Linked DNA regions of Homo sapiens: regions 1 and 3 are each linked to region 2. The links come from fine-mapping of genetic effects on gene expression. A gene starts in region 2. Each other region holds a variant in brackets. All regions are shown on one strand. Distances are between the middles of the regions.

Region 1 (4,000 bases), 29 kb before region 2:
TTGGAAAATGCTGCCCCGACCTGCCCACCTCTTTGGCCTTTCATTCCCTGGGTGGATCTGCTCCAACCTCTCATCAGATGATGTGATCTGGGGAAGAAAACCAAACTTTTGTGCCAAAAAGGACAAAAGAGGGTGAAAATTACTAGGTCAAGACCTGGTGGTGCAGAGTGGAAATTCTAGCTAGCTCCACAGGAAAGAAGAAAAACATTATCCTCCGGGGGCTTGGAGGATGTGGCCCAACTGTCGACTATTCTAGGAGGTGGAGGCCAGGGCAGGGCTGGACCTTTGAAAGTCTCCGTCCACAAGCCAGTGGCCACGGCCTTGGTCTTGGGCCAGATGCTGGCTGGGAAGAGGAAACCTGTATGGTCAGTCTCAACCATTCTTTAGACAATTTGCCCTGTTCTAGAAGGTTACTCTGGGGACAGTCACCGAGGCCACATTGGCTGCATTCCTGTGACCCACCTGGAGGGATGAGGGAGGAGAGAGCATGAAAGGGTGGAGGCAGGAAGGAGAAGAGAAAGAAGCAGCAGAGAAAGGAGGCAGGGGTGGGGGCAACTGGATTCCTTTCAGCCATCCAGGGCCTGGCTTCCTGTCCACCAGCACACGGAAATTCCCCAGATCTTATCATCAAAGAATAACAAGTAACTCAACCACAGTATGGGGGCTTAGAGGGAACGCATCTCAGCTTGAGCTTGGCATTGGAGGTTCCAACAGGGGACTTGGACCAGCCTCACTTTCCAGCCAGAGGCCAATGCCCAGGACCTTCTGTCCTCCCCTTCCTCTCCCTGAAGGCTATGTCTCCAGTGGATCCCCAACAGGAGGGACCTGCTGCTCACCCTCTGTGGTGAGCATGTTCCTGGGAGGATGAGAAAAGTCAGCATGCTTGGCTGATGCCAGTGCGGAACAATGCTCTCAGGGTCCCGATGGTGACTTAGAGGTGAGGGCTGACTCCACAGAGGCCTGGGAGGAAGTGATTTTGGTGTGTCTGGCCCAGGCCTGGAGTTCACCTCATGCCACTCATTCTAGGACAGACACTTTCTCCCCTTGGAGCAGCTCTGAGCACGAGAAGGAGCTGGTGGGTGTGCACTGAAACGATGGGACTGGGTCTCCAATGTCAAGCCCAAGACTTCACCACTGCTCAATATATCCGTGTAACAAAACCGCACTTGGACCTCCTAAATGTATACACACACACACACACACACACACACACATACACACACACAAAACAGGGCTGGAAGGGCTCTTAAAAGAGGAAAGCACCTTCCCCTTTGTGTGAATGGGGAACCCATAGCCTTGCTGGAGGAGAGGAATACCCAGGAGCCCACAGCCAGGCAGCAGGCAGCAGGCAGCAGGAACTAGAACTTGGGTGTCCTTGTGTCCTGAACCCCCACACGCCTGTAGAGATGGATCCTGTCTCGGACTCTCGGGGCCTGGATGAGCAGCGAGGGCCGGGTCCTTTCTACACCACCGAGGTGTCAGGGACACAGGAACCCCCGAGCCCAGGGCTGACACCACTGCCTGGGACAGAAGGTGTTCAGGAAAGGTCCCGGGCTTCTCGCCTCCCCACGCCTCTTAGCACTCGCACTCAGGGAGGAGTGAGGGCCCCACCGTGTGCTGGTGCTGCTGTGCCCTTTCCAGATACCTCCTGAGCACGCATCCTCTCCCTCAGTCCTCACGGCTGCGGGCGCATCAGGCAGGCATGTCATCACCCCATGTAACAGGCGAGCATGACCTAAGACTCAGAGAGCATGTTCACCGCGCCCAAGGTGGTGCATTCAGAGGGCAGCAGAGCTGAGATTCAAAGCCAGGTCTTCCTGGCCTCGGGAAATGTCTTTCAACAGCTTCAGTGTTGGGCCCTGTCCTGGTACCAAGAGGATCTGCCCTCTGAGGGCCTGGCCCCTGCTGAGGAGTCTGCCC[C/A]GGGCCGGACAGTGGGTGTGCCCAGGGCGTGCAGCTCCAGGAGTGCCCACGGTGGGCCCAAGATAGAAAAACCAGGAGGCAGCAACTGTCAACACTGCAGACGCCCCGCCCGCAACACAGACCTGCTTTCTTAGGAGGGTGAAAGCTGTGCCCCAGACGCCAGCCCATGGGCACCAAGGGTCCAGGCACTGTCATAGAGGAGAGGGACGACCACTGGTTTGACAGGCAGGAGTCCGGGGAAAACAGACGGGGAAACAAACTCTGTAAACACAAACCATGCCCCACCCGAGGGCTCTCCAGCATCTCCAGGTGTGGCCACACTGAATCCCAGGCATGAGTGCCTACTGTGTGCACACTCTCTTACCCCCGATGGTCCTGCACTGTTGGATCATGACCCCCAGGAGCCTGATGGGGACGCTAAGGTGCAGGGGAGTGGCCATTTGCTCTGGTGACACAGCGAGATGCTGCCCAAAGACGATGTCCTACTTGATTCCACTGCCCCTCAGAGGATGGCCAATGTCTCATTCTGCAGCTCCCAGGTCCTCTCCTAGCCTGGAAACCCCTCTGCCCTCCTCACACCTGCAGGGCTCCAAATGGCAGAAAGTGGGATGGGGCTGCTGGGTGGTGGTGGGGCTGCTGGGCGGAGCCCTGGGCTTGATTCCTGGTCCCTCACTGCCTCGCTATGTGACCTCAGTGGCCACGGCTCCTCTGAGGGCCTCAAGCTTATATTTAGGAAGATAACCAGGCACAGTGACAAAGCCAGACAGTGGAAGGGACCCAGAGGACAACCACTGTGCAGGAAGCCTGGTGACAAAGTCTTGGCTCGGGGCTGGGTTGGGTGGTCTAATGACACCATGTCACTGCGAAGGGGATCTGCCTAAAAAGGCAACTAGGCTGGTGCTGGGGACACTGGAGAGGGACAATCAAGTCCAGGAAGAAAGCACTTCTCCCTGCAGAGGCCTGGACGCTCCCACCTTTGGCTCGCCGATCTGCTCTGCCCAACATAGCAGCTTCTGGCCACATGTGGCTGTCTAACTTTCAACACAATTAAAACTTTAGTTTTGGCCAGGTGCGGTGGCTCACACCTATAATCCCAGCACTTTGGGAGGCCGAGGCAGGTAGATCACTTGAGGCCAGGAGTCCGAGACCAGCCTGGCCAACATGGTGAAATCCCATCTCTACTAAAAACACAAAAATTAGCTGGGCATGGTGGTGCACGCCTGTAATCCCAGCTACTTGGGAGGCTGAGATTGCAGTGAGCTGAGATCGTGCCACTGCACTGCAGACTGGGCAACAGAGTAAGACTCCATCTCAAAAAAAATAAAAAAACAAGCAAACAAACAAACAAACTTTAGTTCTACGGTTGCACCAGCCACATTTCAAGCGCTTAGCAGCCACGTGCAGCTGGTGGCAGCCATGCTGGATAGGCGGTGCAGACTCAGCACGTCTCCATCACTGTGGAAAGTGCAACAGGCACTTTCCAAGGCGCTGGGTTAGAGACTTTTCTTTGAGGCCGAGAGCAACCAGAGGCACAGGAGAGGTTCTCGAAGGGCCCATGGAGAGAGGCTGCTGAGGCATGAGGGGCTGGAGACAGTGGAATTCACTGGGAGAGGGCAGCAGAGGGTCTGTGAAAGCAGTCAGGGGTCACACGAAGATGAGGTGAAACCAAACAGTATAGCTGCTGTGAGGACAGGTTAACTCCCCAACTGTGCAACCTTAAGAAAATTACTTAACCTCTCTGTGCCTCAGTCTACTCATCTGGAAAACGGAGCCATGTTAGAATCCACCCCCTCACTCTTGCAATAAGAATTAAGTGGGTTGATATTTATAAAGTGCTTAGGACAGGGCCTGCCCCAGAGTCAGCGCCATGTAAGTGTCTGTGGGGTGAAATCACACATGCTAAGTGGTTAGGTCACTACCTAGCATGTTGTCAGTTGGCGGTCAACAAATGCTCCAGGAACACAGGGCTTTACCAGAGAAAGGCTCCAGGTTGAGGTTGAGCAGGTACTTGGTGCCACACTCGGGCCCCAAGATCCCATTGTAGCTGACGGTGCGGGCACAGAGCAGGAGGCGGCAGACG
Region 2 (4,000 bases):
GGAGCAGAGGACCAGGGCACGGTCAGGGTGACAGATGGGTGGGGGTCTTGGGGGAAAACAAATCTCATAAACCTTGGCAAGCTCAAGGTCAGGATGGGGAAGCCCTTAAGGTGGGAGGAGTGGGCAAGACAGACTCTGAGTGTGGAGCCACTGGACAGCATGTGGTCCAAGTGAGGCCCAGGGGCAGGAATTTGTTCAAAGTCACGCCGCAAGTTGGTCCTTGCAGTGGGAGAGCCCAGGTCTCCTGCTCACCATCGACTATTCCAAAAATGAGATGCAAAGTGCCTTGTATGTGAATTATCTCGACTTAAATCCCAAAACAACTCCGCTTACATAGATGCTATCATGATTCCCATTTTGTAGACAAAGACACCAGGTGGCTCCAGGTCCCAGAGCAAGTGGCTGCTTTGGGATTGGAATCCAGAGCTGTAGGATTCTGTAGGATTCTGCCCTGGGAACCACCTCACTACAGCTCAGTTTTTTCTCCAGCCCCTCTTATGACCACCCCTTCGCCACCATGTCCTGTGTTGTTCTCAAACCTGGGGGCAGATAGTTCTGCGCCACTGAAGTATCAGGGATGTCGGTCCCCGTGTAATCACAACAGAAGAGACCTCAGTGGCCAGAAGGAAAAACTTCCTGCTGGCCTATTGCGGCGAGGAAATGTTTTTGGAAACTTCAGACCCAGGGAGCTTGAGCAGGAAAGAGGCCATTGTTGTTCCCATGGAAGACCCTGGAGATACGGCCAGTCCCTGGGCTGTGGGAGCTGGGGCATTTTCTCCATCTGTTGTCCGAAGAAGGGTTTCCAGAAATCACGCCCAGCTCCAAAGATGCAGGTCTAGAATTGTAGGATTTATAGGATTTCTGCACTTAGAAAGGGCCTAGGCCTTCTAGGCCAGTGAGACCTCTGTCAGAAGTGGCCACTGTGACATGGGGCTGGAGGCTCATCATAACTGGCATCTCCAGGATCTCCCAGCCCCACTGAGCCCTGCTTTTGAGCATGGGGGTGAGAAGATGCATTGAGGACAAGCGGCCACCGAGGCGACACATCACAGTGTGTTGGGAGCTGGGCCCGAGGGAGGCAGGTGGCTGAGATCACACAGCAGGGTCAGGTGGGTCCACAGTTCCTGCCACCCATTCCTGCTCCACCTGCCCCATGTCCCTGTCCCACACCCCTTCCTGGGGGTTGCAATGGGTGCAGAAGCCATCCCCAGATGAACTTGACCCAAGAGCCAGCTGGGATTCTGGGTCCAGCAGTGACATCCTCCATTGTAGAAATCCCTCCAGCTGGGACCTACGAGAGTGCTGCTTGTGTGTGGGGAGGGAGTCAGGGGCACCAGTATGAAATTAGTTAAGCCTCTGTTCCACTCCTCTCGTTCCTCACAGATGCACCAAAGGCTGGAGCAGAGGACCAGGGCACGGTCAGGGTGACAGATGGGTGGGGGTCTTGGGGGAAAACAAATCTCATAAACCTTGTCCTATAAAATAAGGACACTGTTGTCCTTATTTTATAGGTGAGACTCAACAATTGGCCAAGGTCTAGGGTTGCAGAACGTGAGGGCGGGAAGAACAAGCCTGATTTCCGAAGGCTCCTGGATAGGATGCCGAAAGCTCCTCTCTGGCCGCTGGAGCCAAGGACTCAGCCAGGCTTGGCTTGCACACCACCGGCGTGGCATGCACACCACCTGGTCCTGGCTGGCAAGAACCACCCAAACCTAAGTGTTCTGAGGCCAGGCCAGCACCCCCTGCACAGCTCCAGGCACACATCAGAGAGCCAGCCCCCACTGACTGACTGAGGACACGTGCCAGTGGTCCGCCAGGACAGTACTTTACAGTTTACAACACCCCGTCGCGTTCCATTGCCTCACCTGATCCAGGGAGGCAAGGGTTAATGGTTATGCAGTGTGGATGGGGAAACTGAGGCTCCAAGCAGCATTGAGACGCCTCCTCACCCAGCCCGGTCTGCCTGTTGCTCTCCAAATCAGGACTTAGGGATTCAGCTCCCACCGGGTCCTGACCCCCAATGCCCCGGGGCCCCTGAGTGGCGGCTGCGGTGACTCTGATACTCACCCTCGGCCATGGTCGGGCGGGGGCGGTGGCTCCTTCCACTGGCGGCGAGACCCTCCAAGTGCGACCACTGGCGGCTGGCACTGCCGAGGCGGAGAGCGGCGCTAACTTATAGCCCGCTTTGGGGCGGGCCGGGGGCGGGGCCCCGCGGGAAGGCGGCGACCTGGGAGGCCACCCATTGCCCAGTCCCGGGCCCACGCCGCCAGCGCTGGGGCTCACCCAGGGGACCGGAGCCCGAGGGAGGGACGGCGGCCGGACGAGGGCGCCCCCTGGGGGAGCGGACAGGGACACACAACTAGCCCAGGATACAGACACACCTGGACCCACAGACTCAGACCTTGGAGAACAGACACCTGGACACACACACTCAGATACAGACACACGCAGCACCCTCATAGAAACACACAACGGAACCGGGGTGCACCTGGACACACAGATGTGGACTCTTAGGTCAGATCTGGGATCAAGAACACCTCCCCACCCCCAACACACACACACACACACACACACACACACGCACACACTCACACACATACTCAGATATACATACACAGAGAGCAGACGCAGACACACCAAGACAGGGCTGTGGAGATACACACACAAACACAGATACACTCCCACAGATACACCAAACACGGCTGGCCACGCAGACACAGTGACATGGATACAAATTCAGATTCGAATGGCAGACACACACCAGGACATAGATACAGCCTGACACAGCCAGGTAGCCTTGACCGCGAGCCACACACAGCTGTGGACACAGATGAGCAGGTGTCCAGAGGCACCTGGCACACACACAGACCTCCTAGACACCAATGCCACTGTCAGATGTGGACGCAAAATCAGAGAGGGCACCCACAGACACACAAAGATGTGGCTACTCAGAGGTAGACACACATGCAGGCATGGACTCAGGTACAGACATGCAGACACACCTGCAAAAACAGACACACCCATGTCCCTTCCTGTAGCAAAACCCAGATAATCCTCCGATCTCACCCATCCTTGTATCTGTCTAATCAGCCATCCATCTAATCAGCCATCCATCTACCCATCCATCCACTCACCCATGCATCACCTACCCCCCCACCTATCCATCCACTCATCCCTTCATCCATCCCTCCCTCGGCCTTCTCTTCCCTCCCTCCCTCAATCCATCCATCCACTGAGCTTTCTTGAGGCCCCACTGTGTGCCAGAAAGGAGCAAGACTAACTTTCCAGGGACTCAGCCTAGGACTTCTCGAACCTGGCAACCAGGGGTCCTATCTCTCATCCTGGTATCTCTGGTCTCTTGGTCTCCTGTGCTTCCGGATCCACTGTGAGCCCTGAGCGGGAAGGGTTCCCGGAGAGACAGAGGCCCACGGGGCTTCCCTGGCACTTTTTCCAAAACAAGCTCTACATTCCGGAGCAAGCTCTACATTCCAGAACAAGCTGTACATTCCGGAACAAGCTCTACATCTATTGATGAATTTGGAAGATAGAAGTAGCCCCCGTCTCCATTCCTAGGTGACATATGGCTCAGGGAAAACAACCCGTGTTGCTTCAGTGGATATTTCTCCCTGGGTCAAACGGGCTCTGGCTGGAGTCTCAGTGAACAAACCCACAAAGAGTGTTGGGCCCAGCTGACCCGTAATTGCCCCATTTTATAGAGATTGTTGCAGAAACTGCTCCCTGCAGCTGGTGAAAGCTTGGAGGAAAGAGCAGCGTGAGGAGAATCACCCGACCGAGAGGGAAGTCGGTCAAGAGGCCGGGGTTCAAGTTCCCACTCTGCCCCTGACCAGCTGTGTGGCCATGGGCAGGATTTTGCCTCAGTTTCCTCCTCTGCAAAATGGGGGAAAGAATCCCTCCCTCACAGGCCTGAGTAAGACTCAATCTAAATGACCAAGTTTGGGTGCCTTATACGTGGTGAGCATGCAATAACTGGGGCCCTGAG
Region 3 (4,345 bases), 50 kb before region 2:
TGTGTGGTCTGAACAGAGAATGTTCCAGTCCCAAGTCCCCATACCGTGTGACCTGAGGAGCCAATAATAACCCCTGTCTCCTGAGGAATTATGGAGAATTCAGTGAGGTCAAACAGGCAAAGCTCAGAACACAGTGCCAGGCACACAGTGAGAGCTCAGTGTGGTGGTGGTGGTGGTTGTGGTGGTTCAAGGAAGGATTCGCTTTAATCAAAGGGCCTGTGGTATGGAGAAAACATTCCTCTAGGCAATGGGGCGCCTTTGGAGGCTTCTAACAGAGTGACCTCCCTCAAGTTTGTGTGTGGAGAGGCCTCCAGCCCAATGCCCACCACATGGGGGAGCCGTGTTCTCTGCCAGAAAACTTGAAATAGGAAGATAAGCCTGGTGGGGCGGGGTTAGGGGAAAGGGAGGAGAAATAACCGTTGTGGGTTTTCTGCGAAAGCAGAGCCTAGGGGAGGTTGAATGGACAGTGACAATATTAGGGATTGAAGTGGAGCCATAAATCCTGGCTCATTATCCCCAGAAACCAGAGGGATCAGGTTGACTTGAAGAGGAGCCAAAGGTAAGAAGAGAGGCTGGCTCCCAAGGTGAGAAGAGCTGAGGTCCAGCATGGGGAAGGACCAGCCTCTCCCTCTGAGTCCAGGTTCTTTCTCTGGCACTCCTGGAGGCAGCCCATCCTGTCCCTGCATGAACCCTGCCAGTAATAGGGAACTCAATGACATGTGCAGTAGCCTGTTCTCACGAGGTTCATCCCTGGATGTTCAAAAGAGCTTCCTGCCTGCCGAGTGCAAACCTTCCCCCAGAAGCTTCATTCAATAATTCAGTAAGTCTCTGGGCACCTACCATACGCCCTGCCCTCATGAGGAAGGAGCAACATAGCACTGAGCAAGACAAAGTCCCAACTCTCAAGGAGCTTAGGTTCAGCTGTAGGAAGGCAAATATTATACAATGATATCACATAATGCCAGATGATAATACGGGCTATGACAAAAATTAAAATAGAGTGACATGACATAGTGACTACCCTTGATAGGGTGGACAGGGAAAGTCATGAAACATTTAAGGGCAGGCATAAATGACAAGAAGAGACTAGCTATGGCAAACTGCATTTTCCAAAGATGGCTTGAGCAGTATCTCCCATCACATTCACTCTTATGCAGTGTGACTCACCACTCCTTCAGCAAGAGATGGAGTCTATTTCTCCAGCCTTGATTCTGGGTGGGACCTGTGATTGCTTTGACCAATGGAATAAGGCAGGAGTGATGCTGTGTTATTTCTGGATGTAACCTTTAATTACTCCAGTAGCTTTTGCTTCTGGGTTCTTCGGACTCTGTTTCTTAGGCCACTTCCTCTTGGAATCCAGCTGCCATGCTGGGAGAATTCTAAGCCACATGGAGTGGCCAACCATGTAACTGGGCTCTCAGCCAACAGCAAGCGTCAACTGCCCACCATATGAATGCGCTGTCTTCCATCCAGCCCTCGAGCCTTCAGATGACTGCAGCCCTAGCCCCCATCTGACTGCAGCTGCAGAAAGAAACACTCAACTGGGCACAGTCAACCCCGGAAACATAATAAATTACTGTTTTGTTTTTGTTTTTGAGATGGGGTCTCACTCTATCACCCAGGCGGGAGTGCAGTGGTGTGATATCGGCTCACTGCAACCTCCACCTCCCAGGTTCAAGCAATTCTCCTGCCTCAGCCTCCCGAGTAGCTGGGACTACAGGCGCCCGCCACCATGCCTGGCTAATTTTTGAATT[T/C]TTATTAGAGACGGGGTTTTTCCATGTTAGTCAGGTTGGTCTCGAACTCCCAACCTCAAGTGATCTGCCTGCCTCGGCCTCCCAAAGTGCTGGGATTACAGGCGTGAGCCACCATCCCCAGCAATAAATTACTATGTTATGTCTCTAACTTTTAGAGTATAAGAAATAAGTAGAACACCACAGAATAGCTTTGTGCAAAAGCCCTGAAGAGGGAAAGAGTTTGGGATATTTTGAGAAATCAAAAAAGTCCAGTTTGGTTACAGCAGAATGGGTGACTGGGGAACTGACAGAGAGAGGCAGGAGTGCGCCAGACCATGCAGCTCATAGTAAGGACAACAGGGAGACATTGAATGGCTAGGCAAGGGCATGCATGATTGGATTTATGTTTGAGAAACTCCCTCTGGCTGCAGGGAGAAGAATGAATTCTAGGGGGTTGTGGTATTTTTTAATAATGTTGAATTTTGGGAGGCTAATATTCATTTTTTATTTATTCATTTTTTAAGAGACAGGATCTCATTCTCTGTCACTCAAGCTGGAGTGCAGTGGCTTGATCATAGCTCACTGCAGCCTTGAACTCTTGGGCTCAAGGGATACCGCCACCTCAGCCTCCGAGGTAGTTCAGCCTCATACAATGAATTGGAGTTTATTCACTCTTTTTCTATTCTCTGGAAGAGATTATCAAAGATGAATGTTAGATAGCACTTACCAATGAAGCCATCTGAGGTTGAAGTTTTCTTACTGGAAGGGTTTTAACAACTGATTCAATTTATTTAATTGTTAAAGGACTATCTAGGGTTTTTTATTTTGTCTTAAATCAAAATTGGAATGTTATACCTTCTAGTATGTTGCTTATTTCACTTAAAATTTCAAATTTATTGGATCAAAATTTTTCAAAATAGCCTCTTTTTTCTTTAATGTTGGCAGCATCTGTAGTGATGTTCATTTTTTATTTCTAATATTTTTGTGCCATTTCTCTTTAATTAATCTTCATGAATATTCATCTTTTAACTGGAGCATTTGGTCTTTTGATATTTAATATAATTTATCAATGTATATGGGTGCAAACCCACTAGCTTATTTTGTGATTTCTCCCCTCCCCTCCCTCTGTCCCTCCCTCCCTCCCTTCCTCCTTCCTTCCTTTCTTCTTACCGCCTCCTCCCTTTCTCCCTTCCTTCCTTCCTTCCCATTTTGAACTGATTACTTTTGCGTTCTATTTCCCCTCTCCACTAGTTTGGGGATTATGCACTGTTTTTATTCTTTTAATGTTATCATTGAAATTACAACATGAATATTTAACTTACTGAAGTCTAAATATAATCAGTACCATTGCTCTTCTTCCAGGCCTTAGAACACTGCTACTCTAATTTGACATATACTCCATGGTTTTGGTGTATTCTAATTATTTTTTTAAAAAAGATAAACTCTACAAGACATTAATGTTATTGTTTTATGTAGTCAGTGCTCAGCTAGACTGGCAGATGGATTGATCATTTCTTTGTTCTTCACTTCTCCTTTCATCTCAAGCCTTCCATCAGTGTTCGTATTTCTTCTACATAAAGTGTACACTGTAACAAGTTTCAACAAGCAGAATGTGCTCTATTCTTTTTTGTCTGAGCATGCTTTTATTTAACCCATATTCTTGAAGTACATATTGATGAGCATGGAATTTTAGTTGGGTAGTTAATTTCTTTCAGCACATTGAATGTATCATGTTACTATCACCTGGCTCTGTTGTTGCTGTTGAGAAGTCTTCATCACTCTGTCATTTCTTTGAAGGTTATTTTTCTTATTTTCTGGTTGCTCCTTAGATTTTTCTCTTTGTCTGTGATGTTTTTCTCCTTCACTGTGATGTCTAGACGTGGATTTATTCTTATCACTTTCCTTGAGATTTGTTGGGATTTTTGAATTTGTGGATTAGTACCTCTCATCAGTTTTGGAAAGTTCTCTGTCATTATTTCTTCAGTTAGTGTGTCTGCCCCATTTTCTCTCTTGTATTTTTCTGAAACTGCTATTAAATAGATGTCAGATATTTTCAGCCTCTCTTCCATGTCTCCCAACTTCTCTTTTATGTTTAACACCTATCTACTTCTCTGTACTATATTCTGGATCATTTATCTTCTGCCTCACTCGTGTTTTTCTTTAGCTCTGTTTAATCTTCTATCAAACCCAACCATCGACTTCTATGTTTCAGTTATTGTATTTTTCATTTCTAGAAGTTCTATTTGGGTTTCTCTATTTTTTCAGTTATTAAAATTGTTGCAAAAATATGTAACATAAAGTTTACCATCTTAACCATTTTTAAGTTTACAGTTCAGTGGTACTAAATACATTCATAATGTTGTGCAACCATCAGTATTTGGTTCTCTTTTAATTCTGCTGGTACTTTTCATGGTTTCTGTTCCCAGTAGATATTTGTAAGGTAACATGCCTTCCTTCCTGCGGTGCCCCATCTAGATTGCTAATCCTCACTTATCTGTACCCATCCTCCCAAATCTGGAGGTAAGTCTCATCTCCTTTTAAAACCTTTGACTGGACAGTCATGGTAGAAACTAAAGCCATCATCATTTAATCATTTTGTGTTTACTCAAAAA

Alleles and levels. Alleles are on the strand shown, and positions count from the first base shown. SD is a standard deviation of normalised expression in the study named. Not every link is listed here.
For the expression in subcutaneous fat of the gene that starts at base 2,149 in region 2, T is the low allele of the variant in region 3 and C is the other (moderate effect, 0.41 SD a copy in GTEx).

The links. PIP is the estimated chance that this variant, and not a neighbour inherited with it, causes the effect.
Region 1: its variant is the best candidate, but not a certain one, in a credible set for the expression of TGM2 in whole blood (TOPMed, PIP 0.52).
Region 3: its variant is the best candidate, but not a certain one, in a credible set for the expression of TGM2 in subcutaneous fat (GTEx, PIP 0.60).

The regions. Positions count from the first base shown.
Region 1 is chr20:38,134,220-38,138,219 of GRCh38, forward strand. It overlaps TGM2 (transglutaminase 2), which reads right to left. Exons shown (of 13, transcript NM_004613.4): 10 at 3,894-4,000. Among named protein-coding and RNA genes, the nearest start is that of TGM2, 29 kb to the right of the region's middle. The variant C/A (reference allele first, on the strand shown) is at 1,921.
Region 2 is chr20:38,163,122-38,167,121 of GRCh38, forward strand. TGM2 (transglutaminase 2) reads right to left here and starts at 2,149. Exons shown (of 13, transcript NM_004613.4): 1 at 2,068-2,149. The coding sequence starts at 2,077. RefSeq lists a silencer at 2,002-2,441.
Region 3 is chr20:38,113,282-38,117,626 of GRCh38, forward strand. It overlaps LOC124904899 (a long non-coding RNA gene), which reads left to right. Exons shown (of 2, transcript XR_007067580.1): 2 at 1,339-1,597. Among named protein-coding and RNA genes, the nearest start is that of TGM2, 50 kb to the right of the region's middle. The variant T/C (reference allele first, on the strand shown) is at 1,755.